Linked DNA regions of Homo sapiens: region 1 is linked to region 2. Evidence: fine-mapped expression QTL. A gene starts in region 2. The other region holds a variant in brackets. All regions are shown on one strand. Distances are from middle to middle.

Region 1 (15,409 bases), 110 kb before region 2:
ATCCATAGAAGATCCCCCAGTTCTAGACTCTGCCCATTCATGACAGATTTCCCCACTCCAGCTTGGACCTGAGTCTGTGGCCCCTTTGTTACCATGGTAACAACAGAGCCATGAGGGTCCCCTCTGATGCAGAAGCCCTGCAGCAAGTCCCTCCATCTCTGCTGGGTGGTGGACGGATGCCCCCATTCCCATGTGGGTGCTGGTGGTGCTGCTGGAGCAGCCCTTCCTTTGGTCTCCTCTTTGTCCTGGGTCCAGTGAGAGCCTGGGATTGACTGGGGATTGATGAAGCCTCTTCTGACGTGGACCTTCTGTGATTGTCGCATGTCAACCTTGTGAAACTGACATCAGCTTCTAATAGGGAGCAGAGAGGGGTGAGAGAAGGGAAGACCATGGTGGTTCCTGGAGGACCATGGCGGAATGCTGTTGAGGCAGTGGATGATTGATTGTTGATCATTACTGATTATTGTTAATCTTCACAACACCACTGGATGGGGAGCTTTTTTTTTTTTTTTTTTTTTTTTTTTTTAGATGGAGTCTCACTCTGTCACCAGGCTGGAGTGCAGTGGTGCAATCTTGGCTCGCTGCAACCTCTGCCTCCTAGGTTCAAATGATTCTCCTGCCTCAGCCTCCCGAGTAGCTGGGACTATAGGCACACACCACCATGCCCAGCTAATTTTTGTAATTTTAGTAGAGACGGGGTTTCACCATGTTGGCCAGGGTGGTCTTGATCTCTTGACCTCATGATCTGCCAGCCTCGGCCTCCCAAAGTGCTGGGATTACAGGCATGAGCCACCATGCCCGGCCGGAAGTTTAAAAATTTTTTATTTTACACATGAGAAACCAGCTCAGAAAGGAGCTGTCACCTGCCTGAAGTCACTCAGCTAGTCAGAAACAGAGCTGGCATTGAAGCCTGGGCGTGTGTGAGTCCAGGGCGGCGGGAGTGGCCAGGGTGGAGGAAAGGCAGAGTCAGAGGCTTGCTCCTGCTCAGGTCTTGAAGATGACAGAGAAGTACTGCCTGGACCGAGGAATCCCCTTCCCTAGCATCGAGGTGGGCCCTGAGGACATGGAGGAGGCCCGTGAGTGCTATCTGTTTGCCAAGGCTGAGGACCCCCGCTCCCCCATTGTGCTGCACTTCCCCCTGGTTAACCGTACCTTCCGCACACACCTGGCCCCAGGTAAGGGAAGCTCCAGGCCTGGGACTGACCCACAGAGCCCTGGGATGGTGATGGGACGCTGTTCTGAGGGTGGGTTCCCTGGAGAATGTCACTAAGCACGCCTCCTGGTGGGCCTGAGCTGGCCCCTGTGGCCCTCTGCTCCCTGGGTCTCAGCGTTCAGATGGGGCCAGCCCCTCCTGGGGGGTCTGAGAGCTGAGATGTGGCCCAAGCAGGGCCCGCAGGGAGCCAGCCAGGTGTCCTGCACAAGGAAGACTTCTGGGCTGTTCCAGCCAGTTCCACAGAGGGCTCCATCCTGGCCTCTCCTCTGCTTCCCCCACCCACAGGTGTGGAGCGACAAACAGCTGAGGAGAAGGCCTTTGGGGACTTTGTCATCAACAGGCCAGACACCCCCTATGGCATGATGAACTTCACCTATGAGCCCCAGGACTTTTATCGGCTGGTGGCCCTCAGTCGATACAACGTCCTGAACAACGTGGAGACCTTGAAGTGCGCCCTCCAGCTGGCTCTGGACCGGCACCAGGCTCGGGAGAGGGCAGGGGCCTGACCAAGGCAGGAAGCGGAGGACTGTGACAGAGAGGAGACACACTGCTCATGGTCAGGGCTTGTAGAGGGAGGAGCGATGGGGACTCTGTGCAGGATCTGCTTCCCTTCTCTCCAGGACCTGCCTCGAGGTGCCCCAGGCCCCGGAAAGCTCTTGCAGAATTGCAGCTTGGACTGGGGCAGGGCTCTCCTTGTGTGTTTTTGGAGAAGATGGGCAGTAGATCGCTCCAGGGACTCTTGGGGATGTAGGGCAGAAGAGAACAGCACTCATTTCACAGCGGGGTGTGGAGAGAATCAGGTGAGCCACAGAGCCCACCCCAGACACAGAAGGACCTCAGAGGGCCCAAGTCCTCAGACCCACACAGAACAGGGGCTGAGGGCACTGAGAAGCCAGCTGTCCTCCTTACACTGAGATGGAAAGCAGAGATGCATCCATCCACACTTCCTGCAGAGCGGCCCAAGCCCCAACCCCACCTCGAGCTCCTGGATGCACTGCTATCAAGAACAATGAGGGGCTGAGGGGATGGCCAGCCTATGTTGCTGACTCCATCATCCTAACCCTCCTTCTGCCTTCTGGTCTCCTCGTGCCTCCTCCCAGATCACCCTTCTCTTCCCAGCGCCCTAAAGCCTGTGGGGTGATGTCCCATTCTGGCTGCTCCAGGTGGGAGATGTGCGCGTGTCTCCCTGCCAGTTACCCAGGCTTCACTCTTCGAACCTGGACCACAGTCTCTGGTGATGTGTGTAGTGGCCACATCATGCAAATATAGTCTCACCATTCCTAGGAGCTAAATGGGTGTGTCTAGTAGGGGCATCAGTTCATCGGGGGAGAGGTGTGCACCTGTATGTGGGGCAGGAGGGTGTGCAAGTTCCTGGAGGTGGGTTACTCCAAGGCATGGGCAGTGCAGAGGGAGCCTCGCCTGGGCTCTTGCCTCTTTCCCAGATGCATCCAATGGGTCTTGGCAAGTTTTGTTTCTCACTCTCCCTCTTCTCCATTTCCCCTGACCCGCCAGGGACTCTCCAAATACCTAGAACCTCTCTAGTGTGGGCAGCCCTCAGATTCGTGAAGAGGAGATCCCGTTCTGGCCAGGCCCTCTCCATCTGGCCACGGCCTCTGCAGCATATGCCTCCAGTGCTGAGCTGCCTAGGAGCCTGCAGCAGCACTTGAGACCTTGTTCCTTCTGCCCCCTGTCCCAGGGGCTCCCTCTTGGCTGCACCCCCTGCTCCATGCTCTCTCACACAGACACGCTGTCAGGAACACCTGTGCTGGGAAGCCTTACCTGTCCTGAGTCTGGAAAGAAGACTAGTTCTGGTTTCCAGGTTGGGGAAGGGTGACTGGAGCCCAGCCTGTGTCTTGGCCTGGCCTGGGATCTGCAGCCCTCCAGCTGGCATGAGTTGCGAGGGCTGGGGGAGCCAGTTATTTGGGCTGGCATGGGGTGGGGACACCTCAGTTCTCCTCTGCCTCCTCACCATGGCTGCCTGTCACAGGCCACGGCCCCTCCCCTTGGTTCAGCAGTGAGAGGTTTATCTGGGAGTTTATCTGGCTCCTGCTGTGGCCATTGTCATCAACACTGCTGTGCCTGCCGTCATCAATAACTTGTTAGTAAAACCTTCATAGGGTTCACAGCTCAGAACTGCACAGCGTTCACAACTTAGAATCTGTGGTGTTTCTTCAGTGCCCATTAGAGCCTCAGGCTGTCTCTGGCTCCTAGAAAGTCATTCTACCATCTGTTTTGTTCACTGCTGTATCCTCAGTGCCTAGAGCAGCAGTTGATACATGGTAGGTGCTCAGTAAATATTTGATAAATGAATGGGAACCTACATTCTAAGAAATGGATCGTCACCCACCAACCACAAAAAAGCATGCAATGCTTTCATGATTCCTAACCCATGTGGACTTTTTGAAGAGCTGATATAAACCACAGACCCTCTCCCAAGAAAAAGGCATACACACACACATGAAAAGTTGCTTACAATAAGGTCTCTGCTTCAGCTATGTGATCAGCAGCCCCAGGGTTGCAGAGGCCAGCGTCTGTCCCCGCAGGCCAGCAAGGCTTGTGAAGGAGGCAAACGTGGGCTTGTGCAGAGTGGGCGGGGACCTTCTCACACAGAAGTGTAGGCAATGCCACTTGTGCTCAGATAAGGTTTGGGAGGAGACTGGGACAAGATCAAGGGCAGGGGGCAGGGGGCAGGAGGCTGGGCTAGTGCTGTGGCCCAGATATTGGCCAGAAGTACAGGGAGGATCTCAGCCAGGGATGGGGAGGCTCCAACAAGACTGAATCTGGGAGCCACGCAGAGCAAGAAGCCAGGGGAGGGGCCGAAGGTAACCCAGCCAGTTTAATGTCTGCTCCTCAGGAGAGATCTGAGTCTTTACCTCATTCCCAACCCTTATCTGAGATGGCTGGAAATAAGCTTCAGGGTCCTGAAGGTGACAGAGTTGGAGGGATTTGTCTAGAAGAGCAAGCATGGTTTCCCTTGAAGCTGGGTAGAAACACAGGAGCAGGGACATCATTCATCAACTTGTCAGAGCTCCTCATGAGGCAAGGGAAGAAAAAGGGGGCCACAAGTGTAGGAGATTGGTCAGAGTGGTGGGAGAAGCTATAGGGAAAGGAGCAGGCCTTCTGAAAGGTTGGAAGGCTCTGCATAGCTTTGGAGGAGAATAGCTAAAGACAGCTGTTCTATAACCCTGAGGCAGAGGGCAAGGAGTAGGTACGAGGGAGTGTGGGGGAATTTATCTTAAACAGGCTTGTTTACTTCTGTTGACCAGGAACTGACCTTTGATCATCTACGCCCATGACCTTCCCTGAAAGGGGAACAATAAATGTTAATTACCTCCAGTGTTTGCTCCAGGCTTTTGGCATTGTGCCTGCACTGAATAAAAGCAAGCAGCTCCAGCTTCTCAGGGCTGCACTTTGGCCACTTGAGCTGGGCAGTCCCCTAGCTGCTCTTACACTGCATACCTGTGTCTGAGTACACATTTCATCCACTGCTCAGCCAGGGTCGCTCCTCAGTGAGGAGGTATCTGAGTCCTTACCTCATTTCCAACTCTTGTCTGAGATGGCTGGAAATAAGCTTCAAGGTCCTGAAGGTGACAGAGTTGGAGGGATTTGTCCAGAAGAACAAGCATGGTTTCCCTTGAAGCTGGGTAGAAACACAGGAGCAGGGGCATCATTCATCAGCTTGTCAGAGCCCCTCATGAGAGAAAAAGGGGGCCACAAGCCTGTCACATAGGGCTGCACAGGTTGTGCACTGCACAACTTCAGGGGATCCTGTTCACATGAACTGATGGTGTGAATTTGTCTCTTGGAGTTGTGTGA[C/T]CTAGCAGCCCTGGGAGCACAGCCTCAACTGAGTATGAGGACAGAGGCTGGTTCAAATATCAGGCCCCCTGGTTCCTTCGATGCAGCTCGGCATTCACAAGAATCTCCTGCAGAAAATCGAAGAGCAAGTATCCTTTCCATTCCTTGGATGGTGCAGCACTGGGAGAAGGGCCTCAGGTACTGGCAGGTGGCTGGTGGGCATGGGTAACCCCCGCCTTCTCTGAGCCCAGGCCATGCAGCTAACATTGCTCAGTTGGTGGTGGTAATCAGCTGAGGCTTTAAATGAAATTTCCTTCATTTCAGATGAAACCATTCTTGCAGAGGAGAAAAGCAGGGCACACTGCATACCCTGCAGGAATCTATCTTTCCCTAGCACCTCTGTCCTGTAAAACTCCACAGGGACACCCAACAAACGGGGCAAGGAGTCCTGGAATTTTCTCCATGAAGGACAGGGGTCTGTAGGGGGCTGTCCTGGGAGTCAGGGAGGCTGTTAACCACTAGAGGTCAGGGCTGGGGACTGATTTTTTTTTCCTATTAGGAAAGCTGAGGCACAGGAAATATTAAGCGGTGAATGACTCACTATGTTAAAAAGCCAGTTACTTTAGTAAGATTTAGGTCTTGGTTTTGAAAAAGATGTACAGTTGCTTTTCGACTTACAATGAGGTTACATCTCAACCCATTGGAAAGTCAAAAAACTGTAAGTCAAACCATTCAGTTGGGGACCATCTGGATAAATATGTAATAAAGGCCACTGTTTTAAAAGTCTACCAACACTAGGTGGCGAGCTTTGGCAAAGTAAGTGGTAAAAGGAGGCGAAGTTGGAGAAAGAGGAAAAGACAAAGGGGAGGAAAATATGAGTAAGGAAGAGAAGGGATGGGGAGCTACCCAGAAGGGGGGCCACCCGGGTGGGGAGAGGCAGGCAGGTGCTCTTGAGAGAGGCTCTGGCTGATTTGCTGGCATTCACAAGTCCTCGTGGCTCTTTATCCTTTGACCCCAGAGTGATGGATCTCACCTGGGTTGCACCTTGAATTCACCTGGGGAGCTTTAAATGCCTGATGCCTGCCCTGGCTCTGCTTGGTCTACTGCGGGGCATCTTTGTCATCCCACCACCCCCACTGGGCTCCTCTGGACCATGGTGGCTGAGGCTTCCACAGGAGGGTCCAGGTGGCCCTTGCTTGTGCATCGTCTAGTTCGGGTTGGTACCGTTGAAGCCCCTTCTTGCTTTTCCTTCCTCCCTCTGGCCTCAGCGCTTCTGCTGTCCTTGTCCTCCTGTCCTCTCTTCGGGTCCCTGAACACTGCCAGAATTTCCTGGAGGCACCTTAAGTCCTCTAAGGGCCTATAGATTTTCAGTTCCATCTTGGGTACCAGGAAACACTGTGCCATGCCCCAGGTCTCCTTTCACTCCCCACCCCAACCTCTCCATTTATTTTACCATCGCTGGGTTTCAAAGCAAGTCCTGGGGCTTGAGACACACTTGTTTTCTGTTTGCCATGCTTCGTCTTTCTCCCCCGCCTTCCTGCTTTCTGGTTTGATTTTTTTCTTTTCCCCTCTGCTGGTTTGAATGTTATGCATCCTATTTCCACCATTCTGGTGGTTCCTCTTGTCAATTTCATTGACGTATCATTTATATGCAATAGCACACATTCTAAGTGTACAGTAAGTGTACAAGAGAGTAAGTGCACAGTTCAATGAATTCTGATTTATATACATGTGTAACTACCACCACAGTCACGATATGGAACATTTCCATCACCCAAAATGTTATCTTGCGTTCCGTCCCAGTCAGTTTCCCCACTCCTGGCCCCAGGTGACTACTGATCGGCTTTCTCCCACAATGGATTTGTCTTTTCCAGAGTTTCATACAAATGGAATGGTATAGTCGAAAAATTATTACCTTGAACCACTTAAAATTTTTTTGACTTACAATTCGTTGACTTTTTGACTCATTGTGTCCAGCTTCTCTCACTCAACACGTTTTGCGTTTGCGAGTCATCCCTGTTGCTGTGTCTGTAGTTCTTTCCTTAGTATAACTCACTAGGATGTATGTAGATATCCCACAATGTTTATCCATTCCCCTGCTGATGGAAATTTGGTTTATTTCCAAATTTAGCTTCATTAAAAGTCTTCTTACGGCCAGGTGCGGTGGCTCACGCCTGTAATCCCAGCACTTTGGGAGGCCGAGGCGGGTGGATCACGAGGTCAGGAGATCGAGACCACCCTGGCTAACACACTGAAACCCCGTCTCTACTAAAAATACAAAAAATTAGCCAGGCGTGGTCGTGGGCGCCTGTAGTCCCAGCTACTCAGGAGGCTGAGCCAGGAGAATGGCGTGAACCATGGAGACAGATCTTGCGGTGAGCTGAGATCGCGCCACTGCACTCCAGCCTGGGTGACAGAGCGAGACTCTGTCTCCGAAAAAAAAAAAGTCTTCTTACTTAAACATTCATTCATTCATGCATTCATTCAGAGACAGTCTCACTCTGTCGCCCAGGCTGGAATGCAGTGGCATGATCTTTCCTCACTGCAACCTCTGCCTCCCGCATTCAAGCGATTCTTCTGCCTCAGCCTCCCGAGTAGCTGGGACTACAGGTGTGTACCACCATGCCTGGCTAATTTTCGTATTTTTAATAGAGACAGGTTTCACCATGTTGGCCAGGCTGGTCTTGAACTCCTGACCTCAAGTGATGCACCCACCTCTGCCTCCCAAAGTGCTGGGATTACAGGCATGAGCCACCACACCCAGCCTAAACTTTTATTTTTTTAAAGTCCCATTAAAAAGTCCACCAGTCTCTATTGTCTCTCCCCAAACAAGACAAGCATCCTGGCATGCTTGTAGCTTCCTGTTTCCTGCCCTATGTGCCGCTCCCCAACCACCCAAACATTCTACTAATCACCTGGAATCTTATTTCCAGTGTATTAAAAACTGCAAAATAGAAATTTTTATTTCCACTTTACAATATAGTTTCTTGATTTAGTTGCTTGTCATTGCTTCTTGTAACTCCTTTCTTTCTTTTGCGTTTGCTTTTCTTTTTAGTGGAGTGCAAAATTGAATATTTAATGAAGGGTGTGTGGATGGTAAATATTCTGACTGCTTATATGTCTAGAATTCTCTTTTCTTGCCCTGACTTATGAGTAATAGCCTGGAAGAGTATAGAATTCTTGGTTCATGCTTGCATATGCTCAGATGTTAATGCCTTCTTGCATTTGATATTGCTGATATGCAATCTGATGGCAGCTGGAGTCCCCATTGCAGGTCATTTGTCTGTAACTTTTAGGACTTTGTCTTTTATTTTATTTATTTATTGTTTTCTGAAATGAGGTCTCACTCTGTCACCCAGGCTGGAGTACAGTGGCAGATGATGGCTCACTGCAGCCTCAACCTCCTAAGCTCAAGCGATCCTCCCACCTCAGCCTCCCAAGAAGCTGGGCCCACAGGCATGTGCCACCATTCCTGGCTATTTTTATTTTTATTTTTAATTTTGTAGAGACGGGGTCTCCCTATGTTGCTCAGGCTGGTGTCCAACTCCTGGGCTCAAACAATCCTCTGACCTCGGCCTTACAAAGTGATAGGATTACAGGTGTGAGTCACCATACCCGGCCTGTCTTTGATTTTTAAAGTTTAACTTTGGCCAGGCTCTATGGCTCGCATCTGTAATCCCAACACTTTGGGAAGCCAGGCAGGAGGATCACTTGAAGCCAGGAGTTAAAGACAAACCTGGTCAACAAAGCAAGACTTCATCTCTATAAAAAATTAGCTAAGCATGATGGTGCACACCTTAGTTCCAGCTATTTGGGAGGCTGAGGCAAGAGAACTGCTTGAGCCCAGAAGGAGTTCGAGGCTGCAGTGAGCCACGATTGCATCACTGCACTCCAGCCTGGGTGACAGAGCAAAACTCTGTCTCAAAAAAAAATAATAAAATCAAAAAGTTTAATTTTGATTTTTCTAAAGTGTAAAGGTAAAAAATTATCAGTGAGCTCTTTCAACTTCTGGATGTATGTCTTTTTGAAGCTCTAAGAAATTACCTGTCAATTTTATCACAACTGCTGTTCATCCTCCCTTTCTGGAATTCATATTAACTGGATGTAGGAATATCTGAATCAACGCTGTGTATCCCTAAACTTTCCTCTTATGCATTCTATCTTTTCATTGTGCTGTATTCCGGGGGATTTTCTTAGCATGATTTTCCAGATCATGAACACAATCTTCTGTGTCCAGTCCGCTCCTGGATTCATCTTTTGGGGTTTCTGTTTAACTTGACTATCACATTTTTCATTTTAAGTTCTCTAAGCGGATCTTTTCCAAAACTACGTGTTTTCATTTCCTGAATAGGCTTCACTCCTTTCACTGTGATGATGTTAGCGTATGTATTTTAACACGTTTTTCTGATTGTTCTGTGACTGGATTCCTTGGGGGTAGGTTCTTTGTTGCCTCTCTTTCATGGATGCTGCCTTCTTTATGTATTTGGTGACTGTTGGTTGTAACCTCATCTCTGAGAGAGTTCCTTGCATGCCCTGGGCTGTGATGGCTCCTGGCTGCGTGTCCTTGGCCATGCCGTGGTAATGATGGCTGGCCTGCAGGTGGCAGTGTGGGACTTGGGGCTGGGGAGGCTGAAGCTATGCTGCTGGGGGACTCACACAGCCTTGAAGGGATGCTGCAGCCCCTGGGTAACAGTAGCAGCCTTGGCATGGAGGGCCGGGTAGCGTGCCAGTGTGTTCCATTGGGCTGCCCGTTTACCTCCTTCATTCAGGGCTGCCTCTGCGTTTCTGACTCATGAAGAGTTCTCTTTCTTGCTTTGAATCATGGGTTATTAATTTATTAACCTATGTTTTTATCTTTTCTATTATTAATATGACGGGCTTGGTATAGGGGGTCCTCCAAACCTCATATTGAAATTTAATCCCCAGTGTTGAAGATGGGTCCTAATGGGAAGTGTTCGGTTATGGGACCAGATCCCTCAAGAATAGGTTATTGCCCTCTTTCTTGGGGGCTGGGTGAGTTCCCACTCTATTAGTTCCTCCAAGAGCTGGTTGTTAAAAAGAGCCTGGCACCTCCCCCATCTCTTGCTTTCTCTCTCACTCTGTGATCTCTGCACACAAAGGCTCCCCTTGCCCTCTGCCACGAGTGGAAGCCGTCTGAGGCCCTCACCAGAAGCAGACGCAGATGCTGGCACCATGCTCTTTGAACAGCCTGCCTTGAAGAGCCATGAGCCAAATGAACCTGTTTTCTTTATAAATTACCCAACTTCAGGTATCCTTTCATAGCAACACAAACTAACTAAGATGGGGATGAGTAAAATGTTACAAAGGAAAAGTTGTGTTTCAAGATGAAAGACAGAGAACAGGCTAAGATCACCCTCAACATTTTAAAAAAATTATTTTCAATTACACAGTAAATTTTCTGAATTTGTCTTTTTAAGAAATGATTTAAGTTAAATTAACTATTCTACATCTGAAACAATGAAGAAATTTTAGGCATGAATTGTTTTATACATTTTATTCTATTAATATTTGAGTTTTTTGATTACTCATGTATTTTTTTTCTTTTTTTGAGACGGAGTCTCACTCTGTTACCCAGGCTGGAGTGCAGTGGTGCGATCTCCGCTCACTGCAAGCTCTGCCCCCCTGGGTTCAAGTGATTTCTCCTGCCTCAGTCTCCCAAGTAGCCAGGATTACACGCACATGCCACCACACCCTGCTAATTTTTGTATTTTTAGTAGAGACGGGGTTTCACCATGTTGGCCAGGCTGGTCTTGAACTCCTGACCTCAGGTGATCCGGCCACCTTGGCCCCCCAAAGTGCTGGGATTACAGGCGTGAGCCACTGCACCTAGCCGATTACTCAGGTATTTTTCAATCCCCAAATGCACCATCAATCTGTGCTGACATCCACTCTTCCTCTTCACCAGCTGAATCAGAGGGTGGACTAATTGGACCTGACATGTGCAAGGATAAGGAGCTTTGTAACCTGAGAGCTGCCAGGGCTCCCTAAGTCTCTCAGGGACCTGCTCACGGGTTGCCGTGAAGGTGAACTGAAATAAGATGTGGAGCGTGGTAAGCACAGTGGCCGGCACACTGGGAGTCCTCAGTAGAAGTGGTTATTATTTCACACAGGGTGCTGATTGCGCTAAGCTGCCCAGGAGTGGCCTCTTGGCTGTTCCTAAGTGACTCAGTCCTCATTACTCCCCACTTTCTGCCAGGTGTATTCAGAGCAGCTTGGCTCAGACCTGGCCTTATTGCTGCCACACTGGTGGGGGTTGGGGTGGTGGTGGCCAGAGTGACCAGTCCTCTGGTCTTAACCCTCACCTAGGCCAGGGGTAGGACCCGGCCTTCTGGGACATTTCACAGGACTGGCTCCTCATCTTTGCCCATGGATCTGCCTCATCTCCCTCCCTCATCTGCTGGCCTGGGGGGAGGTGTCTACTTTTGTGTTTCCCCGTGTGCATGCCTGGCCTTTGCTTTTTCTTTTGTGAGCTGTGCCAGGGGCTCCTGGTGGTGCTGGCTGGCCTCAAAGAGCTGAGGGAAAAGCACTCGGTGTGGAGCCACCCAGAGGGTAGAGCCTGGATGCCTTCATAGATCCCTGCCTTGCTGAGATCGGGAGATTCAAGCTCCCATCCTGTGTGACTGCTGCTGCCACCACCCAGGGAGTAGGTATCTTTGTTAAGAGCTGGGCTTGGAGTAGAGCCAGAGTCAGGGTAGGAGGGGCCTGAAGCCCAGAGCTGTACTCTCATATTCCTGAATGGGAGATGCCAAGCTCCTCAGCCCCCAAGGTGGCTGGAAGGGCCTGGGCTGTTAGAATCTGCTGTGATTTGAAACATGATGTCCCCTCCAAAATTCATGTTGAAAGTTAGTTCCCAGTGCAACAGTATTAACAGATGGGGACTTTGAGAGGTGATTAGACCATGAGGCCTCCACCCTCATGAATGGGGATTAGTGATCTTACAGAAGGGATTCAGGAGGCAAGTTTGCCCTTTCTGACCCATCTGCCAAGTGAGGACACAGTGTTCTTCCTTCTGGAGGATAAAGCCATAGGATGCCACATGGGAAGCAGACAGCAGCCCTCACCACGCAACCCACTGACACCTTGAGAAATACATTTCTGTTCTGTATAAATCACCCAGGCTACAGTGTTCTATTAGAGCAGCACAAACCGAAGACAGGAGCCTTGCTGTCATTCTCCAACCACCTGCAGACTTGTATGTTTACCCCAGTGTACCACATCGATGCCTTCACTTTCCAGGAGTGCCTTCACATGGAAACAGGTGGGAAGTACAGGCTTAAGGGACTGCCAGCCCATCCTCAGCCATACATTTTTGGATCACTTGCTATGATCAACAGCTACAAGGCTACACACTTCATACAAACCCCCTTCTCTGTCCTCACCACACTGACAAGAGGCTCCCCAGATGCACCTGCAGGGTTCACACTTAGTAGAAGCCCGCTGTTGATCCAGGCTTTGGTGCCTCCTCATTGCCCCTGCTCCTGATCTGTGTCTTCCTCTGAGTGAGAGCTGTTGCAGGCAGGCTGCCTTCTCAAGTCTCCCTTGGGGTCCCATATCCTGGCTACAGAGGGGGCCTACATGTCACCAGGGTCACTATCCTGGGTTTCTCATCTTATTTCCCAGACTGAACCTGGCTACTGAAGTCTTGACCTTGGGCATCTAGACCTGAGCTGGGTCTAGACAAGCAGTTCCCGACTGGAGCTCTCAGAGGAGGCTTGCTGTGGGAACCAGCTGACCCTGGGGAATTGGAAATGAGAGGCATTTGGGGCCCCAGGGGTAGAGATTGCCTTTCATTGAGTGCCGTTACAGCCAGGGATTTGCCACCACAGCCTGTGTCATCCTGAGCTTCTAGTGTTTCCTGCTAGGTGTCCCAGAGGACTTTATCCATTAGCAGATGGAAGTGCCCTACTATAGGCTGGAGGAGCTCAAGGCTGCAGGAATGGGGTAGGTGGGCAAAAGAGCAGCTAGGGAGCAGCCTGGGCGTCCAGGACTGTTCTGGAACCTGCTCACTGGGGGGTCTGAGGCATGGAGGAAGCTACTTCCTTATGGTGCAGGGCTCTCAGCTCTGTCTGTAGTTCCACGGCCCTTCTCCGATGCTCCCCATCCCAAACCTTCTTACTACCAATGGGTCCTAGTTTACCAACCAGAGAGGGGGTCAGCAATCTGAGGCTGCTCTTCCTGCAGAGGATCCCAAGTCACAGTCATCCTAGAGGCTCCTTCCCTGGCGCCCTTTATCACAAGCCTAGTGAGTGGCTTCTGCAGAGCTGGTGAAGCCACTGGGGGATTCCTTCCTGGTGAGTTCAGCACGAGTGGAAATAGAGTTGCAGGGAGCCCTGGGAGAAGGTTGAGCTAAGCTGGAAGGGACGTCAGAGGCTAGCTAGGTCAAGTCTCTCATTTTAGGATGAAGAGTAATGTCCCCTTTCATTTCTGATGTTGCTCGCTTGTGTTTTCTCTCTGCTTGATCAGTCTAGCGAAGAGATTTCTCAATTTTATTAAATATTCAAGAAGAGCTAACTTTTGCTTTTGTTTATTCATTATTTTCCCATTTTCTATTTAAATAAATTTTGTTCTTTTTTACTTCCTTCTAATTACTTTGAGTTTAATTTGCTCTTTGTCTAGCTTCTTAAGACAGAAGCTGACCATTTCAACTCAGTGGTTTCCTTTCTTAAAAAGCAGCTTTATTGATGTATAATTGACGTACAAAGAACTGCACATGTTTAATATGTAAAATTTGATGAGTTTGGACGTAGGCAAACACCTGTGATACTATCACCACAATCAAGTCAACACAGTCAACACCTAAAAAAGTTCCTGGTGTTCTTTTGTTTTTGTTTCTGCTTTGTTTTGTTTTTGTTTCCGCTTTGTTTTATTTTTGTTTCTGCTTTGTTTTGTCTTTGTGGTAAGAACACTTAAGGTGAGATCTGCCCTCTAACAAATTCTGAATTCTACAATACCATGTTGTTAACTGTAATACTATGTTGTACAGCAGATCTCCAGAACTTAATTGTCTAGCAAAAGTGAAACTTTATACCCATTGAACAACAATTCCTCATTTCTCTCACACCTAAACTCTGGCAACTACTATGGTACTCTCTGCTTCTATGAGTCTGACTCTTAAAAAATAAATTCCATGAGTCTGACTCTAAAAAATACTGTCATAAAGACAGGCGTATAGACCAATGGAACAAAATAGAGAGCCCAGAAGTAAACATATGTATATGTGGTCAATTGATCTTTGACGAAGGTACCAAGAATATGCAATGAGACAGAGAGGAAATATAGTCTCTTCAAACAAATGTGCTGGGAAAATTGGATATCCACATGCCAAAAAAAGAGAAAATGAAAATGAAGTTAGAACACTACTTTACGCTGTACACAAAAATTAAATGAATTGAAGACTTAAATGTTAGACATGAAACTGTAAAACTCCTAAAAGAAACTATAGGGGAAATTTTCTTGACATTGGCATTGGTAATAATTTATTGGATATGACTCTAAAAGCACAGGGAACAAACCTGAAAATAGATAAATAGGACTACATCAAACCAAAAAACTTCTGCATACCAAGGAAGCAATTAACAGAATGTAAAGGCAACCTACAGAATGGGAGAAAGCATTTGTAAATCATATATCTGATAAGGGTTAATTTCTAAAATATATAAGGAAATCCTGCAACTCAATAGCAAAAAACAAAAACAACAAAAATAACCTGATTTTAAACTGAGTAAAGGACTTGAACGAAATCTCTGCAAAGAAGACATGTGAAATGGCTAACAGATATATGAAAATATGCTCAACATCATTAATTATCAGCCTGTCCCCTCCCCTCCCCTCTTCTCCCCTCCTATCTCTCCCTCTCTTCCTCTCTTCCTCCCTCCCTCCCTCCCTCTCTCTCTCCCTCCCTCTCTCTCTCCCTCTCTCCCCCCGCCGCCCCTCGACAGGGTCTTGCTCTGTCGTTCAGGCTAGAGTGCAGTGGCATGATCTTGGCTTACTGCAGCCTTGACTTCCTGAGCTAAAGTGATCCACCTCAGCCTCCTGGGTAGCTGGGACTAGAGGTGTGCGCCACCACGCCCAGCTAAATTTTTATATATATATAGAGAGAGAGAGATATAGATATTTGTGTGTGTGTGTGTGGAGATAGGGTTTCACCATGTTGTCCTGGATGGTCTCAGACTCCTGGGCTCAAGCTATCTGATGACCTTGGCCTCCCAAAATGCTAGGATTACAGGCATGAGCCACCACACCCAGCCCAGGTTATTTTCTAACATATGCATTTAGAGCTATACACTTCCTTCAAGCACTGTTTAATCTTACACCAGTCAACATGGCTATTCTTAAAAACTCAAAAAATAACAGATGATGGTGAGGTTGTGGAGAAAAGGG
Region 2 (15,675 bases):
TAAGTCCTTTACCTCATTTATTCTGGACAACCATCCCATGAGGTAGAAACTGTTATGCTTCCCACTTTACAGATGGAGAAGCTCAGGCTTAGAGGGATAAACTTACCCAAGTCCATGTAGTTTATATGTAACAGAATGAAGGTACAAACCCAGGTCTATTAAAGTCTAGACCGCTATACCATACTCAGTCTTGAGACAATGACGATGTCATCCTTACCAAAGTGATGGGTGATAAGGAGTAAACTCAGTGTGCAGAAGGCTTTTGGCACCTCACTGTATGAGCAAGAGAGTACAGAGCAGGGAAATAAAGCCTGGCATCTAGCTGAAACCAGAGGCCACAAGTTTTAATGGCAGGAAGAGAAATATTGAGCTGTGGATACAAGTGCTTTGAGAATGAAAAGGGCCAGGCACAGTAGCTCATGCTTGTAATCCCAGTACTTTGGGACGCTGAGGTGGGCAGATTGCTTGAGCCCAGGTGTTTGAGACTGGCCTGGGCAACATGGCAAAACCCTGTCTCTACAAAAAAAATACAAAAATTAGCTAGGCGTGGTGATGTGTGCCTGTAATCCCAGTTACTCGGGAGGCTAACATGGGAGAATCACGCTTGAGCTTGGGAAGCAGAGGTTGCAATGAGCTGAGATCGCGCCACTGCACTCCAGTCTGGGCAACAGAGCGAGACTGTCTCAAAAAGAAAAGAAAAGAAAAGAAAAGCACTAAGCTGGCCCTTAATATTTTGTAAAGATAAGGCAGGGCAGAAAATATTCATGAGCCAGATACATTGATGACACTAAGAATACAAACATTACCTACATTGGAGTGAAGGTCCTTTCTTGTAATGTTTATACTTTGTTATCTTGTCATCATGAAATAGAGTCACATCTAGTTTGCTGGCCAGAAGTTCTGGGACATCTCAACATATTAACTTCCATGGTTGATTTTTTAATCTCATCTTACCCAGAGAAGCTGTAAGGCTTGTTTTACTTTATGTCATGAAAATTATATTCTTCATTGTACATTTGTTTTAGGAAATTGGATTTTATTTATCAAGAAACATAGGCACATAGAAGAAGCCTTTTAAAAAGAGAGTACAGGCTGGGCACGGTGGCTCATGCCTATAATCCCAGCACTTTGGGAGGCCGAGGTGGGCAGATCACCTGAGGTCAGGAGTTTGACACCAGCCTGGCCCACATGGTGAAACTCCTTCTCTACAAAAAATACAAAAATTAGCCCAGTGTGGTGGCTCACTCCTGTAATCCCAGCTACTCAGAAGGCTGAGGCAGGAAAATTGCTTGAAGCCAGGAGGTGGAGGTTGCAGTGAGCCGAGATTACACCACTGCACTCCAGCCTGGGCAACAGAGTGAGACTCCGTCTCAAAAAATAATAAATAAATAAATAAATAAATAAATAAATAAGTAAATAAATAAATAAAATAAAAACGCAGTACAGAATCTCAGTTTTCCAGGTCAGCAGCTTTCTACCTGGGATCATAGTGGTTAAATCCAAACTAGCTAGTGTCACAGCTCTGTCACTTACCATCGTGACCTTGAGCAAGGTTCTTATCCTCTCTGTGTTTCAATTCTGCTTCTTTAAAATGAGATAATAATAGTATCTGCTTGGCAGGCAATATAAAATACTTAGACCAGTCCCTGCTACTTTGTAAACATTCAATAAATGAGAGCCACTTTGCTCCTGTTGACATCTGTGTAACGTGTGTGAATGTGTCGTAACTAATTTAGCCATTCCTTTACTGATGGGCATTAGGTATTTCCAGCTGATGAACAAGACAGGCAATGTCCATGTCCTGAAAAGGGTTACAGTCTGGTGGAAAAAGGCAAAAAGAATAAGAAAACAAGATTAGTGAGCATATGATGAATTATGTTAATAGAGCAACACAGAAGCAAGTAGGTAGATGAGAGGTGGAGGGTGGCCCAGGAGGGCTGCCACAGAAAATGGCATTTGAGCAGGGCTGTGATGGATGAGATAGAGCAGCTATAAACAGAGTGCGGTCAAGGACTTCAGGCCAAATTCCCAACATGGGAAGGAGCCTGGGCATGAAGGACCAGTGTAGCTGGAGCTTGGGTGTGAAGGGAAAAGTAGGACAAACGTGAGCAGCCCGACCACACAGACCTTCAGAGAAGGTCTGAAGTCAGCCGCCAGAAGTGAGGGGCAGGCTTGAATCCGGCCAGTCACGTAATCTCGCTTATGTTTTCAGGAGATCACTTTTGCTCTTCTGTAGAGAGTGGCTTATAGGAAGGCAAAAGTAGAAGCAGGGAGATCCGTTAGGCAATATAGGAGTTAAGTGGAGATAATGGCTTAGACAAGAGCAGTGGCAGCAACATCTGGGAAAAAGCTGGAGGGAAAAAAATATCTCACCTGAGGTGCAGAGGACTCCAAGACATGGCCCAATATCCTCACTGGTCCCTGGGGGGCCCCTTCCAGCTTTCTTGATTGATTGCTGTTTCCCTATACCCACAAAACTTTCCCCATCCCCTCCCAGCAGAAAGGCAATCATTTTACTGTGTTCAATGCATATTTTATTTGAATATATTCCCTAGCCATATTGAAGTTGTTGTAGATGTCCTTGATAGATTTACCAGTGTTTCCTGCCTCTTCCTGTCAACACTGATTGTCCCAGACCCATCATGTTGTTCTGCGTGCGTCTCGTGTGTTGCTTTGAATGACTGCAGCAGGTTGCACATCCTTCACTCCCCATTCATGCTTCCAGCCATGCTCTCACATGGGCTGGTTCCACATTTCTCATACTGTAAGTGATGTGGAGTGAATGCCCTCATACACATCTTTCTTTCTTTCTTTTTTTTTTTTTGAGATAGAGTCTTGCTCTGTCGCCCAGGTTGGAGGGCAGTGGTGTGATCTCAGCTCACTGCAATCTCTGTCTCCTGGGTTCAAGCGGTTCTTTTACCTCAGCCTCCTGAGTAGCTGGGATTCTAGGCACCCACCACCACGCCCAGCTAATTTTTGTATTTTTAGTAGAGATGGAGTTTCACCATGTTGGCCAGGCTGGTCTCGAACTCCTGACCTCAAATGATCCTCCCACCTCGGCCTCTCACAGTACTGGAATTACAGGCATGAGCTACCACACCCGACCCTCATACATATCTTTCTATATCCAAATCAGAATTGCTGTCTGATATTCTTACTTTGACTAAGTGACGACAGAGTGTCCTCACTGACCTGATAGCCTCCTCTTCCACAGCAGAGCACGATGGTGACTCTATTCCCATATTCCCACCAACACTTGCCATTATCCAACTTTCTCAATTTTTTCCAATTTAGTAGCTGTAGTAAAATCTCATTTTCATTTTTATTTGCATTTCTGATGAATTTGCATTTCCTGGCTTTTCCCTGTGTTAATTTTTTACAGCCTGCCTTTTTATATGGTATGAAATGGGAATGCTGTTTTCTTTTACTCTATATAGTAAGTCACTTTTGCCATGTCACCCATTAAACAGTTTATTCTTTTCCCATTGACTTGTGGTGCCAATTTTATCATATATTAAGTTCCCTTGAAAAGCAGGGGTCTGTCTCTGTTCCCTCCATTTTGTTCCCATAATATACTGTTTGTATTAGTATGGCTTTGTAATTTATCTTAGTACCTGGTAGGGCAAGACTCTCCTCTATATCTTTTTTTTTAAAGTGATTTTGTTATGCATGAATATTTATTAAGAGGGGAAACGTGAGATCTATTGTAGAGGTGGAACTCTGCTTATGGCATCTTTTGCTTTACCGAAGTTTAAAATTTCTGTGTATTCAAAACTGACAATATTTCCCTATTTGCTTCTAGGTTTTATACCTTGTTTAGGAAGATCCTCCTCCACCTAACATTATATAAATGTACTCTCACATTTCATTTTAAATTATATATAGTTTTATTTTAATGGTTAGATATTTAAGCTATCTGGAATTTATTTTGTGAAGTTAATTTCATTTTATTCCAAATGGTAAGCTAGCTTTTCCAATAATGAATGGTCCATCCTTTCTGACAGAGCAGGAGCACCGTCATCTCAGACAAACACCACCACTCTAAGTTCCAGCTCCCTTTCTAGCCTCATGCATTTCAAGGAAATCACTTCTCTTCTAACTACAAGCAGCCAGAAAGAGCAGGCAGTAAAACACAGATAAGATAGCTTGGGTACAGAGGGAGGTAGGGGGAACGTCTCTTGGAACTGCCAAACTTCGCCTGCATACAATGGGTCCCAGTAAAACATTGGGCCTTAATAAGCACATTCCTTTCCCTTCAGGTGCACTAAGATAGGGAAGCTAAAAGCAGACTCCAGTGGGGGGTGGGGGGAGGTATGCCTGCAGCTACAGGAAGATGTATGGGAACAGACACACAACTCTCCCTCCCAGATAAGCACAACAAAGAGACACAGAAGCAGTCCAAGCCTCTGATAAACTCTCCCACTCTGAATCCTTAAAAACTCTTAGTCTGTAAGAGAGTATGCCTCTGACCTAACTTGGCCAGAAGCCCCTCTCAGGTTTGTTTTCCCTTAAGTAAACCTGTCTTACTGGCGAGTCACCTTTCATGTTTCTTTCCTCTTTCTTTCTTTTCTTTTCTTTTCCTTTTTTTTTTTTTCTTTTTTGAGACAGAGTTTCACTCTGTCTCCCAGGCTGGAGTGCAGTGGTGCAATCTTGGCTCACTGCAAGCTCCGCCTCCCGGATTCATGCCATTCTCCTGCCTCAGCCTCCTGAGTAGCTGGGACTACAGGTGCCCGCGACCATGCCCGGCTAATTTTTTGTGTAGTGGAGATGGGGTTTCACTGTGTTAGCCAGGATGGTCTCGATCTCCTGACCTCGTGATCCACCCACCTCAGCCTCCCAAAGTGCTGGGATTACAGGCGTGAGCCACCGCGCCTGGCTCCTCTTTAATTCTTACAGTTTCACGACTGATTTCACATACTTCCTTTATTGTATGCTAAAATTCCGTATATACGTAGAGCTGCTCCTGGGTCCTACCTGGTTTATGGAAGGTATTGGAATCCAGAGTTTGTTGGCAAAGACTGGAAAAGCGTTAGGTGCTTTTCAGCAGAAGAACGAGAGGTTGAAGGGAGTGTTTCTAAAGCTCACAAGCTGTAGGAGGCAGAGAGGAGGCTGGAGACAGGTGCTGCTGGCAGGAGGTGGGAAGGAAGGGACAGGGCCCTGAACCACCTGGAAAGCGGACAGTGAGGAGTCATCCTTGCTGGGCCCACAGGGGAGTGGCATCCACTGGGCTTCTGGGAGGAATGTGCTTTTCAATATTGGGTTACCTGAGGCCAAGAGTCTGCTGGCAGAGGCAGTGCCTGGTCACCCCATCTGAAGTGTCAGGTAACAAGCCTGGCGACAGGCCTGGAGTCGGAGGCCTCAGCGCACACAGCAGCAAGGCTGGGCCCAAGTAGCCCAGGGGATCTGAGGATCCTGGGGCTCCCTGGTCATCAGTGCTGGGTGGAAAGGAACTGTTCCCTCCCCTTGCTGCAGAGACAAGTTCAGAATTTCCACACAGAAGGAACTCTACCAAAAGAGCACTTGACTTGGAGCAGCAGTTGTGTACCAAGATTGCTGCTTTGGCACCCGCACCCTGGCGTGGGGATGTCACTGTTTGCCTGACACTCCTTACTCACTGTCCCAGTCCACTTCCAACTCCCCGAGTCCTCTGCTCTGCTCCCCTCCCATCCCACTTAGAGCCCACACTGGCCAATTTACCATTTAATTTTACCCCCTTTCCTCCCCTTTCTAGATTTTACATTCTTGGTTGTTTTATTCCAGACCCCACCTGAGTGGTCAGCACAGAGATGGGCACCCAGCAGGCAGTCGGTAAATACTTTCCAGTAGATCAGTCCACTTAGTTCAAGGTCACACTGGCTCCCACCTGGGACAGAGGCACCACAGAGGATGTGGGGGAAGAAACTTCCACCAAGCTCCCATCAGCCCCCTATTCAATTTGATTTAATTCAACTAAAATGAGTTGAGACCCTGCTCTGAGGAGTTGATAGACAGTGAGGAAACATACGAGTTGGAGTGGGGGTTTGTGGCTGGGCTTCTTCAGTGAGAAGAGGCCAAATAGGAGGCCTTGAGGAATGCCCTGGTGTTTGGGGCTCAACCTGGCCTATCTGATTGGGAAGGGTGGGGGAGTGGGAGGGATGGGGAGACAGATGGGACCCCATGACTTTCAGGACAGTATAGTGCTGTGGGTTGAGTTGCCACAGAAACTCCTGGACTTAGCTTGTATGGCCTGTTCTGGCCTTATCTCTCCCTTAACTTTCCACCCTACTTCCCCTATCCCAGATGGTTCACATCTCACCTCCTAATTGATCCCTTGTTTCAACATCAATCATCCTTGCCTTCTTAAAGTTCAGCTCTCCTGCTCAAAAACCATCAATAGCCCCCTACTGCTTAGAGACTACGTCCAAATATAAAGTATGGCCTTTTAGGGTCATGATTATTTGGACCCTAATCTAGTATGGAATGAAGGGTGACCTCTGAACACAGGGCAGACTGGGTCCAAATGCAGGGCCAGAACCAAGTTGGTGGTATCTGTGGGACCTCTTCATGTGCCTGGCCCTCCAGAGAGCAGAGGGGCCTTACCTGGGTGTTTTCCAGATTTGTTCTTTCACAAAGCCTCCTTCTTTCTGCCCAATTTCTACCACCCCTGTGTTCCACTCTCTACCCCCAGTATCTCTTCCCACACAACTCACTGCACAGACACCAGACCACCTGCATACATAAGCGTGCCCTGCTTTCTGGCCTCCCTGCCTGTGTTCATGCTGTTTCTTCCTCCTAGGATGCCTCTCTCTTCCTCCTAGTGGTGCCTAGGCTCACTAGCTGTTGAAATCCCATTCCTCGTCTAAAGCCCAATTCAGATGCCACCTCCTCTGTAAGGCCTTTTCAGATCCATTCTTTCCCTCTCCAGCTGGAATCCATTTTCCATCTTCTGTGTTCCCTAGCCAGTTCTTAGTTGTGTGGCAGAGCTCTGTAAACCAGGGGCCCCCAACCCCCTGGCCACAGACCAGTACCAGTCCGTGGCCTGTTTGGAACCAGGCCACACAGCAGGTGGTGAACAGTGGGCGAGTGAGTGAAGCTTCATCTGTATTTAGAGCCACTCCCCATCACTTGTATTACCACCTGAAACCCACCTCCTGTCAGATCAGCAGTGGCATTAGATTCTCATAGGAGCACAAACCCTATTGTTAACTGTATACTCGAGGGATCTAGGTTGCACATTCCTTATGAAAATCTAATGCCTGATGATCTGTCACTCTCTCCCATAACCCCCAGATGGAACCATCTAGTTGCAGGAAAACAAGCTCAGGGTTCCCACTGATTCTACATTATGGTGAATTGTATAATTATTTCATTATATATGACAATATGATAATAATAGAAATAAAGTGCACAATAAATGTAAGGCACTTGTATCATCCCAAAACCATCTCCCGCCCACCCGCGGAAAAATTAACCTCGGTGAAACCAGTCCCTGGCACTAAAAAAGGATGGGGACTACTGCTGTAAACCATGGATCTTCACAAATGTGAAGGAAGGATTGTTATCGATCCTTCTAAGATGCCCCCTCTCACCACAGGGAAACTTGGATCCCTGAGCCTCTGAGGGGTTGGATGCATCTGGCTCTCCAGCCAGACTGTCAGCAACTTCAAGCTTAGGATTTCCTCTCTCAGTAGGATGTATACAGCAGATGCTTACTAGGTACATGAACTAAATTGAATTTGTGGAGTTTACTGAGGGATGTGGTGCTGAGTCCCCATCCTTGGCAGAGGAGGGGAGGGCAGGGCAAGGAAGGAAGCCAGGAGAGCAGCAGGCTAAGGCCCCTCCACTTTCTGGAAGGCCAGGCACGTGAAGAGTTCCCACAGGTACCTCCAACCAGGTTCCATCCCTGCATTCAGGCCCAGTCTGTCCCATGTTCAGATCTCATCCTCAATTTCAAAAAAGCACTTCTATCTATGGTCCAGAAAAGCCGGTTGTGGGGCCCCAGGCAATAGCTCAGGCAGGAAACTCCCAGTGTACAGAGTCAGGCAGCAGAACAGGCAAAGCTGCCCTTGTCAGGCCCCTCAGTGAGCCACCAGGCTAGAGATAGGAATCATCTGGGCGGGGCGGGTGCATCCTCCAAGCTGTCCTGAGACCAGGCAGGGGCTGGACACGCCCTCTCTCCACCTGGCCTCCCAGGAGGGAGGACAGGGGATGGTTGCCCCAGACCCTTTCTCACGAAGTATTGGGCAATTATTTTCTTTCTTCACCCTCTAGCTTTGGGAGCACTGACCCTGGTCTCTTTGGGAGTTGTGGCCAGGGACCCCATGAAGGTCCCTGGCCACAGCTCCTGGGGTACCAAGCCATGAAACTGAAGTGGAGTTGGGAGCGACGGTCGCATCCTCCTAGAGGGGCATCTATGAGCCATGACCTCTATAAGCTGAAGAGATAGAGCTTTCCCAAATTATGGCGGGCTAGTCCTACAGTCATGTGGGTCCAGTGTCCTCTTCTTGCCACCCACTGTGCCCTTGAAGGCCTGGTCATTCTGAGTGGCTGGGGGCTACAGACTGCTGACCCCAAAGACCAGAGCCCTGCGGGTCCCTGTATTTCTATGACCTGAAGACCTGTGATTTCTTTGATATGAAGAGATCTAGGCCCATGCACCCTATCTGTCTACCCACTCAAACCACTCCCAGAGCAATCCCAGCTACTGCCAAGCTGTGGCCAGGAAGGTGGAGCTCTGAGTCAGAGTATAAGTTCCTGATCTTGCCACCCAGCTGGAGAGCTGCCGTGATGCTCCTGAGGCAGATGCACGCCAGGGTCTCCCACTCCCTGCCAGACCCATGCCAAGCAGAAGACAGCAGGCCCTCGGCCACCTGTGCCTTGAAGGTGAGGGAGGGGTGCTCAGTGGCTGGGGCCAGAGGCTGAGGGCCAGGGAGGCATGGCCAGGAAGTGAGGGGCAGGGGCAGGGAGCTGAGAGCAGGAGACGGGCCTCAGGGAGGGCTGGTAGGCATTGGACATCCCAAGGACCTGGGCTCAGGCAGCCTCATCTTAAAACCTGGGGGAGGTGGTTTATCCCAGTTGGGGCCAGGGCTCCTGCTTGGGTGGCCCTGCTGAGAGTACCCTCAAGATTTTCAAGGCATCATGAAGTGGCGTGGGGCCATCCTGGGGCCAGGCTAGCACCCAAGATAGAGAGTATGCCAGGGGGATCCACATTTGGCCTGCCCTAATGGCAAGCAGGATTTAACCCTGCAAACATCCTAAGCTTCTATGCTGTGCAAGAGTATGGTGTAGTGTATGGTGAGAATTGGTGGCATTGTCAATCTGTTGCCATCAGCCACAAAGCTGCCCACCTGGGTTTACAGTCAAGGCTCATGGGTCCATCCAACTCCTCACAGCCTCACAGGGAGACCTCTGGGTTCATGGATCAGGTTGCCAGGGCTCTAGACCAACTCTGCCTCAGTTTCCCCATCTAGGCAATAGGGAGATGACCTCAATGCTTCAATCTGCTGTAGGCTCACCTTGGGAAGAATCATTAGTTGGTTCCTCGAAGGCAGCACTTCTTCCTCATTACCTTTCCCAGGGCCACCTCCCCGGCTCAAGTTAAATCATTGAATGACATGGGTGATGCCCTGAAAGTACTTTGCCCCTTGGTGGGGGAGATGAAGACCCTGTTCAGTCTCCTAGGAGCCCAAGTCAGGGAGCTCCGTGGTGGGTGGTGGCCAATGCCCCTGCTGCCCAGCCAGGTAGACACTGCCTCCTGGGGTGTGCCCTGGTTTCCCCACAGCACTTGGGTGGCTGGAAGGGCGTCTGGCCACCTATTGTTCCTGCCAATCTTTTTGAGCCTCCAAGAGCTTGGGCCAGGAGAGGTCTTCCACAGAGGTGACAGAGTTTACCTCAAAGGGGGCAGTGAAGCAGTTAAGAGCCCGGGACCCCAAATGTGGCTTCAGGAGCCTCTCCATGAGCTGCATCTGCCCCTGTCAGGCCTGGAGGGTCCATGTTGGTGCCGGGATTTCTTGCCCTGACCACTCAACTAGCCTGGTGATAAAAAGGAAAACAGCCATGGTAGCTCCTCCCAGGTGACTCTTAGTCTGGGATGTTGCTCAGAGTGGCTGGGACATGTATTAGGGTCCCATCATGTCCCCTCCCAATGGTCTCCTTAAAGGAGGGCCCACATGTTCTGGAAGACAGCACCTGGCTAGTCCAAGCTCTGACACAGGTGTTGCATGGAACTGAAGGGTACACCCAGCTCTCTAGGGAGGAGGAGGTGGCATCACCTGCCTGGCCTGACCTGAGAAGCCCTGGGGAGGGAGTTCCTGCAGGCTCCCCAGGTGCCATCTTCCCCTCTCTCCAGGCTCCCCAGACTTCATGGGATGGTTTGCTGAGGGTATGTCTGGCCCAGCGATGGGCATCGGATCCACCACCTCTGAAATGTGGTTGTCAGACCCTTCCCCAGACCCCACTCCCACCCAGGAGCCTGACCCTGGGAGCCCTTTGGTAATTAAGTATTCTTTTGACTGATTTGTGGTAACGGCTAGATTCTTGGGGTATAGGGAGAGCTCCAATGAGGAGGCTGAGGCTTTTCCTCCTGTCTCTGCTACTGACTAGTCCAGCACATGGCCTGGAGCAAGCTGCTAGCTGGTGCTGTACATTCATAGTGAGAGCCAGGTGGATGGAGTGCATGCGCCCTGAAGACCTGCACCCAAGTCCTGGCTCTGCCACTCCTGGGCAGTGTAAGCCTGTTTGAGATGTAATCTCTCTAAACGCGGCCTTCCCCTCTGTAAAGCAGGGATAATGATGCCTTCCTTGGCGGTGGTTGGAAGGTTAGATAAGAGCATATGCACAGCAGCTAGAGCACAGCCCAGCTGGGCCTGCCAGAGCAGAGTCATACATTTTGTTCCCCACCCTCACCCCTGCCAAAAGTCATATCTATAAAAGTAGGAGTGGGAAGGGGCAGCATTGGATTGCATCATAGCCAATCCTGAGATTCAAGGGGCTGCCTCTTTTCCACATGAGCTGGCAAGGTCCCCCAGTCCCCAGTAGGTCCCCAGGGGGCAGTGGAGTCCTGCCAAGATCAACCCCAGAATCCAGGCTGGGGAGGGGGCTGGGACGGTGTGTCGGCAGCCTGAGCAGTGGGGCCCTCTCTCTCCCCTGGCTTCCCAGAAAACTGCTGTCCAGCCTGTCCTCCCTGGCCCAGCTGTACTGATTGGCAAAGTGGCTAAATATACCTCTGTACTGTTTGCCAAACAGTTCCTGCCTTGAGCTCCAAGTCTTCAAGTGCTCCCTGGTCCTTACCCCAGGGCCCTCCCAATGCCCTCATGAAGGATGAATGCCTGTCCCTACTCCAGGGCTGCAGCCCAGCTGGCATGGTGCCTGATCATGTCTGTTCTTAAATAGTTTGACTCTTCACCCTGATACCCAATCCCAGCCAGGGCATCCTGTTCTAGGGATGAGCTTATCTGAGTCCTTAAAGCTTTGGCCCTCACCACACCATAAGCAACCCTGTAAACTTGGGTTCCACAGCCTCCCTGGTTTCTGGTTCCCACACGCACATCAGAGACACGGTGCTTTGCTCGATTGCATCTTTCCACTGTAGATTAATTACCTCCAGGCCATGAATTTTTGCTCATCTCTAGCAACACTGATCAAACAGATTATATCAGAAGCAAAATAGGTACATTCATTGCAACCCAAGAAGGCCATTTCTCATAGACCTGGTTCCTGGAATGCATCTGGTCCCCAGAGCTAAGTCCCATATTCCTGCCACCTTCCTCCCAGCATGATCCGGCTGGGATGTCTCTCAAACCCCCTTCCCAGTCCCAATTCTGTGCTGGCAAAATGTGGTTGTCTCCTGAAAACTGGGTCTCTCCTGAAAATTCGAGAGCTGGAGGGTGTGATCTAAGGCTCAAGTGGAGCAATCTGTGGCTACTGGAAAATGGGAACTTCTCCAAAGACCCTTATGGCTCTGATGTGCTCTAGATGTTTAAAAAGAGAGGGATATCCTAGAATGTGTTGGTAGAAACAGCCAGTAAGAGTGCAGGCCATAGAAGAATTGTCAGAGTTTGGTGGTTATTTTTTGGCTTTGGGGGAGCGCTGAGTGAAAAGAAGAATCTGTCAGAAAAACTGTTTTAAAGAGAAGAAAAGCAAGGAAGAGGAGATGAAGGCAAGCAACATTTGTCTTCCTGTTTGCCAAGTAAACTGAGATTCTCAGTGGGAGAAACACAGGCTTGGGAAGTAGCATTGGATGTCTCTGATTCTAGCTGTGAGCCCTGTGTCAAAGGACTTAGCCTCTGACTCTCCATCTATAAAGACGAAGCTAATAATAACTGCTTCGTGGGGCGGTTGTAAGGATTAAGCAAGATAATATACAGAGAACCTGTACATGGCACCTGCGCATGGCTGGCACGCAGCAGATGCTAGCTGTTATTGTTGCTGAGTTAGAGCGGGAAGAAATGGTCACCTGCATTGGAAGGCACTGAGGTTAGATGATGGGAGTGAACTTGTCCTGGAAGGCAGGACACCTGGAGTGAGGTCCCAAGGGAGAGTGTGGCTGCGCCTTCCCTGCCAGAGTAGATATTGAAGGAGGCAGGCTGGGCCACAGGCACCCCCTCCTGGAGGCAGGAGAAGGATTGTGAGGCCGAGAGGACCACCGGACCTGGGTTCAGAGCCCTGAAACACTGTGGAATATCCCTCAGGACGGACTCCTGCCTGGGCTGAAGCCTCCACAGCTTGGACTCTAGTTGCCCTCTGAGAAAGTGGGCCGGTGGGTACAGGTTTTGCCAAAACTGCTTGCCTGGTGAAAGTTGACCCTGCCTCCTCACCAGGCCAGCCCAGGGTGCATGCTGCACTCGGGCAGAGTGAGAAAGGAGGAGTGCACCTTGGAGGTCTGGCCAGAGGCCACAGCTGTGTCTCCAGCATCAGAAGAGAAGCAGTGTGCATGGCTTTTGGCCCAAGTCTCCGGCTCCCAACAGAATGCTGTTAGAGCAAGTTATTGACCATGAGATGTTCAATATTTCAGGGTTGATCTCACAAAATAAATCTCCAGACCTATAATTGGCTGTGAGTTTGACTTTTGTCCTGGTTTTAAGGCAGCTGTTCAGGAGAGGAGAAGAGACCTTAAAAGGGGCTAAATAACGTGACCTTCCCAGAATCAGCATTCTGTTGCTGATCAGAATTAAGCCCCAGGGGCCAGGCACAGTGGCTCAAACCTATAAACCCAGCACTTTGGGAGGCTGAGGTAGGCAGAATCACCTGAGACCAGGAGTTTGAGACCAGCCTGGCCAACACGGTGAAACTGCGTCTCTACTAAAAATACAAAAATTAGCCGGGCGTGGTCGTGAGCACCTGTAGTCCAGCTACTCAGGAGACTGAGGAGGGAGAATTGCTTGAACCTGGGAGGCAGAGGTTGCAGTGAGCCAAGATATCCCGCCACTGCATTCCAGCCTATATGACAGAGTGAGGCTCCGTCTCCAAAGAAAAAAGAATTAAGCCCCAGGAAAGTCTGAAAGGACCAGCATCAAAAGATTCCCTAGCCAAGGCAACAGAGTGAGACCCTGTCTCAAAAAAAAAAAAAAAAAAAAAAGTAAAGATAAAAAGATGGTCTCTGAGTGGTGGGATTATAGAAACTTTTTTTTTCTTCGTATCTTGTTTCTCCTGCCCCCAATCCCAATAGTATTTAAAGAGAGAAGAATTGAATCCTCTTAAAAAGGTATAAAGTGATTCTGGCAACACGGAGTAGAACATTCAGGGTCGCATGTCGAGGGTGCCGGTTCAGACGCTTCTATAAATACAGACATTCGGTTGGTAGGCATTTACCGTGAGCTCAGGCTGGGAATGGACGACAACAAAAACTCTTCTAAGCGTGGGTAAAACTCTCAGCGAAGGGGCTTCAAGTCATGAGTTCCAACAGGAAAGGCATGAACCAAGAACAGAACCAGGACACCTGAAGAGAACCCGTGCGAGGCTGCCCCTTCCCGGGTGTGCCGGCTCAGAGTAGAAACGCGCCTCACCTCTGCAGCCTTGGGCCCCTAGGGACCAGAAGAGGTTTCCAGAGTCCAGGAGCATGACTGATGGCGGGGAAGCTTCTGGAGCCAGCCAGAGGCCCCAAGCCTGGAAAGCAACAGCCTGTAGCCAGCTTGACCTGCTCTCCCCATCAAAGCCACTGGCCGCTGTTGCCTTTAACCTCTGTCTCTGCCTAGTATTCACCCCTGGCCCCCCAGCATCTAGCATAGGGCCTGGCACACAGTAGGTGCTCAAAAATAATACTCTAGAAGATGGTTCATTCATTCAGAGGAACAATCAGAGGGCTGGCACTCTCAGAGCAACAGAGGCAGGGAGCCCTACCAGCGAGCACACAGACCCTGAGCTCTGAAAACAGCCCATGGAAGAGACGCTGGCCAGGAGAGGGGTGAAACGGGAGCGGCTCCCACAGGCTTAACGCCTGGGGCCAAGGGCAACAGGCAGAGGGGCACTGGGAGAGCGCTGCGGTCCCTCGGTAGGCAGGAAGGATGATCCGGCGACACTCTGTTGCTGTAGGGTCCAGAGAAGCTGGTGCGGCTGGAAGAGGGGGTTTCAGGGCCTCTGGGAGGCAGAAAGTAATGAAGTAATGGGTCCAAAAGGGATAAAGTAGAGTAGTGGCTGCTGCGAGACTCAGAGTGCAGGGGCAGCTCGGGAGGGACGTGGGGCCTTAAGGAACCACAGCCACTGCCCCAGACACTGCAGCCCAGGGAGGGCTCTGGGTGTTCCTTGAGGACCTGGGCTTGAGATGATGGCAGAGCCCCCAGGAGGTGATCAGAACTAGAAGAGGGGCAGGACGGAAGGAGGAGCCATCAGCACCGCGTGAGCAGGGCTGGGAGTGTTCCCACACCCCAGTTGTTAGGACAAGGTGCTAGGGAAGGGGGACACCTCAGGGCTCTGGTCCCCTGGGGTTATCATGACCCGCAGAGGCATCTGACAGGAGCCAGTCATCAAACCAAGGACTACTTGAGCTTTTGCCATCAGGAAAGAGAGGTCATCGCAGACCAGCCAAGACTCCACAAGGACCTCTTGCGAGAAACAGTGGAGTGGAGAGAGGCAGACTGTTTCCTGGGAAGGGAAAATAGAGTGACCAGAAGGACCTGGGGGAGATACCCTGGGGAAGAGGCCCAAAGGGCAAGGGAGATGCAAAGGCCTGGGCTGGAGCTAAGTAAGTACCAGTGGGGGTGAGCCCCTGGCACATGGTCTCCCAGTGAGTAGATGTCACCGTGCGTGATCAGTGTCTGTCACCCCCCTTCCCGCAGCCACACTGTGCCTGCCTCCCAAGCAGGCTGCCATCTTGCCTGGGCAAGAGCAAATATCTGCATGTGGGACAGTAGGAGGAGAGTGCCAATAAGCAGCTATTCAGTGAAGAAAGGAGAGGGAGAACACCTCAGGACTCCCTTGCCATGGGCGTTCATTCTGTGCATGGGGCTGGAACATTCATTCACTCACTTAATGAACATGTATTAGCACCTTCTAGATATGAGCATGCTATAGGTACTGGAGGTACAAAGATGAAAAACCAGTCAGGGTCCCAGGCTCTCTGGAGCTTCCAGGACCTTCCAGGCTGAAGAGCAGACAGAAACCCCAGCAAACAATGACAAAACAGCATGGGGAGCCAGGCGTGGTGGCTCATGCCTGTAATCCCAGCACTTTGGGAGGCCGAGGTGGGTGGATCACCTGACA

The links. PIP is the estimated chance that this variant, and not a neighbour inherited with it, causes the effect.
Region 1: its variant is the best candidate, but not a certain one, in a credible set for the expression of PLA2G4E in nasal epithelium (TOPMed, PIP 0.88).

Annotation. Positions count from the first base shown.
Region 1 is chr15:42,128,294-42,143,702 of GRCh38, reverse strand. PLA2G4F (phospholipase A2 group IVF) reads left to right here. Exons shown (of 20, transcript NM_213600.4): 19 at 989-1,175; 20 at 1,499-4,669. The coding sequence ends at 1,719. Among named protein-coding and RNA genes, the nearest start is that of PLA2G4F, 21 kb to the left of the region's middle. The variant C/T (reference allele first, on the strand shown) is at 5,030.
Region 2 is chr15:42,014,122-42,029,796 of GRCh38, reverse strand. It overlaps PLA2G4E (phospholipase A2 group IVE), which reads left to right and starts at 8,755. Exons shown (of 20, transcript NM_001395548.1): 1 at 8,755-8,862. The coding sequence starts at 8,767.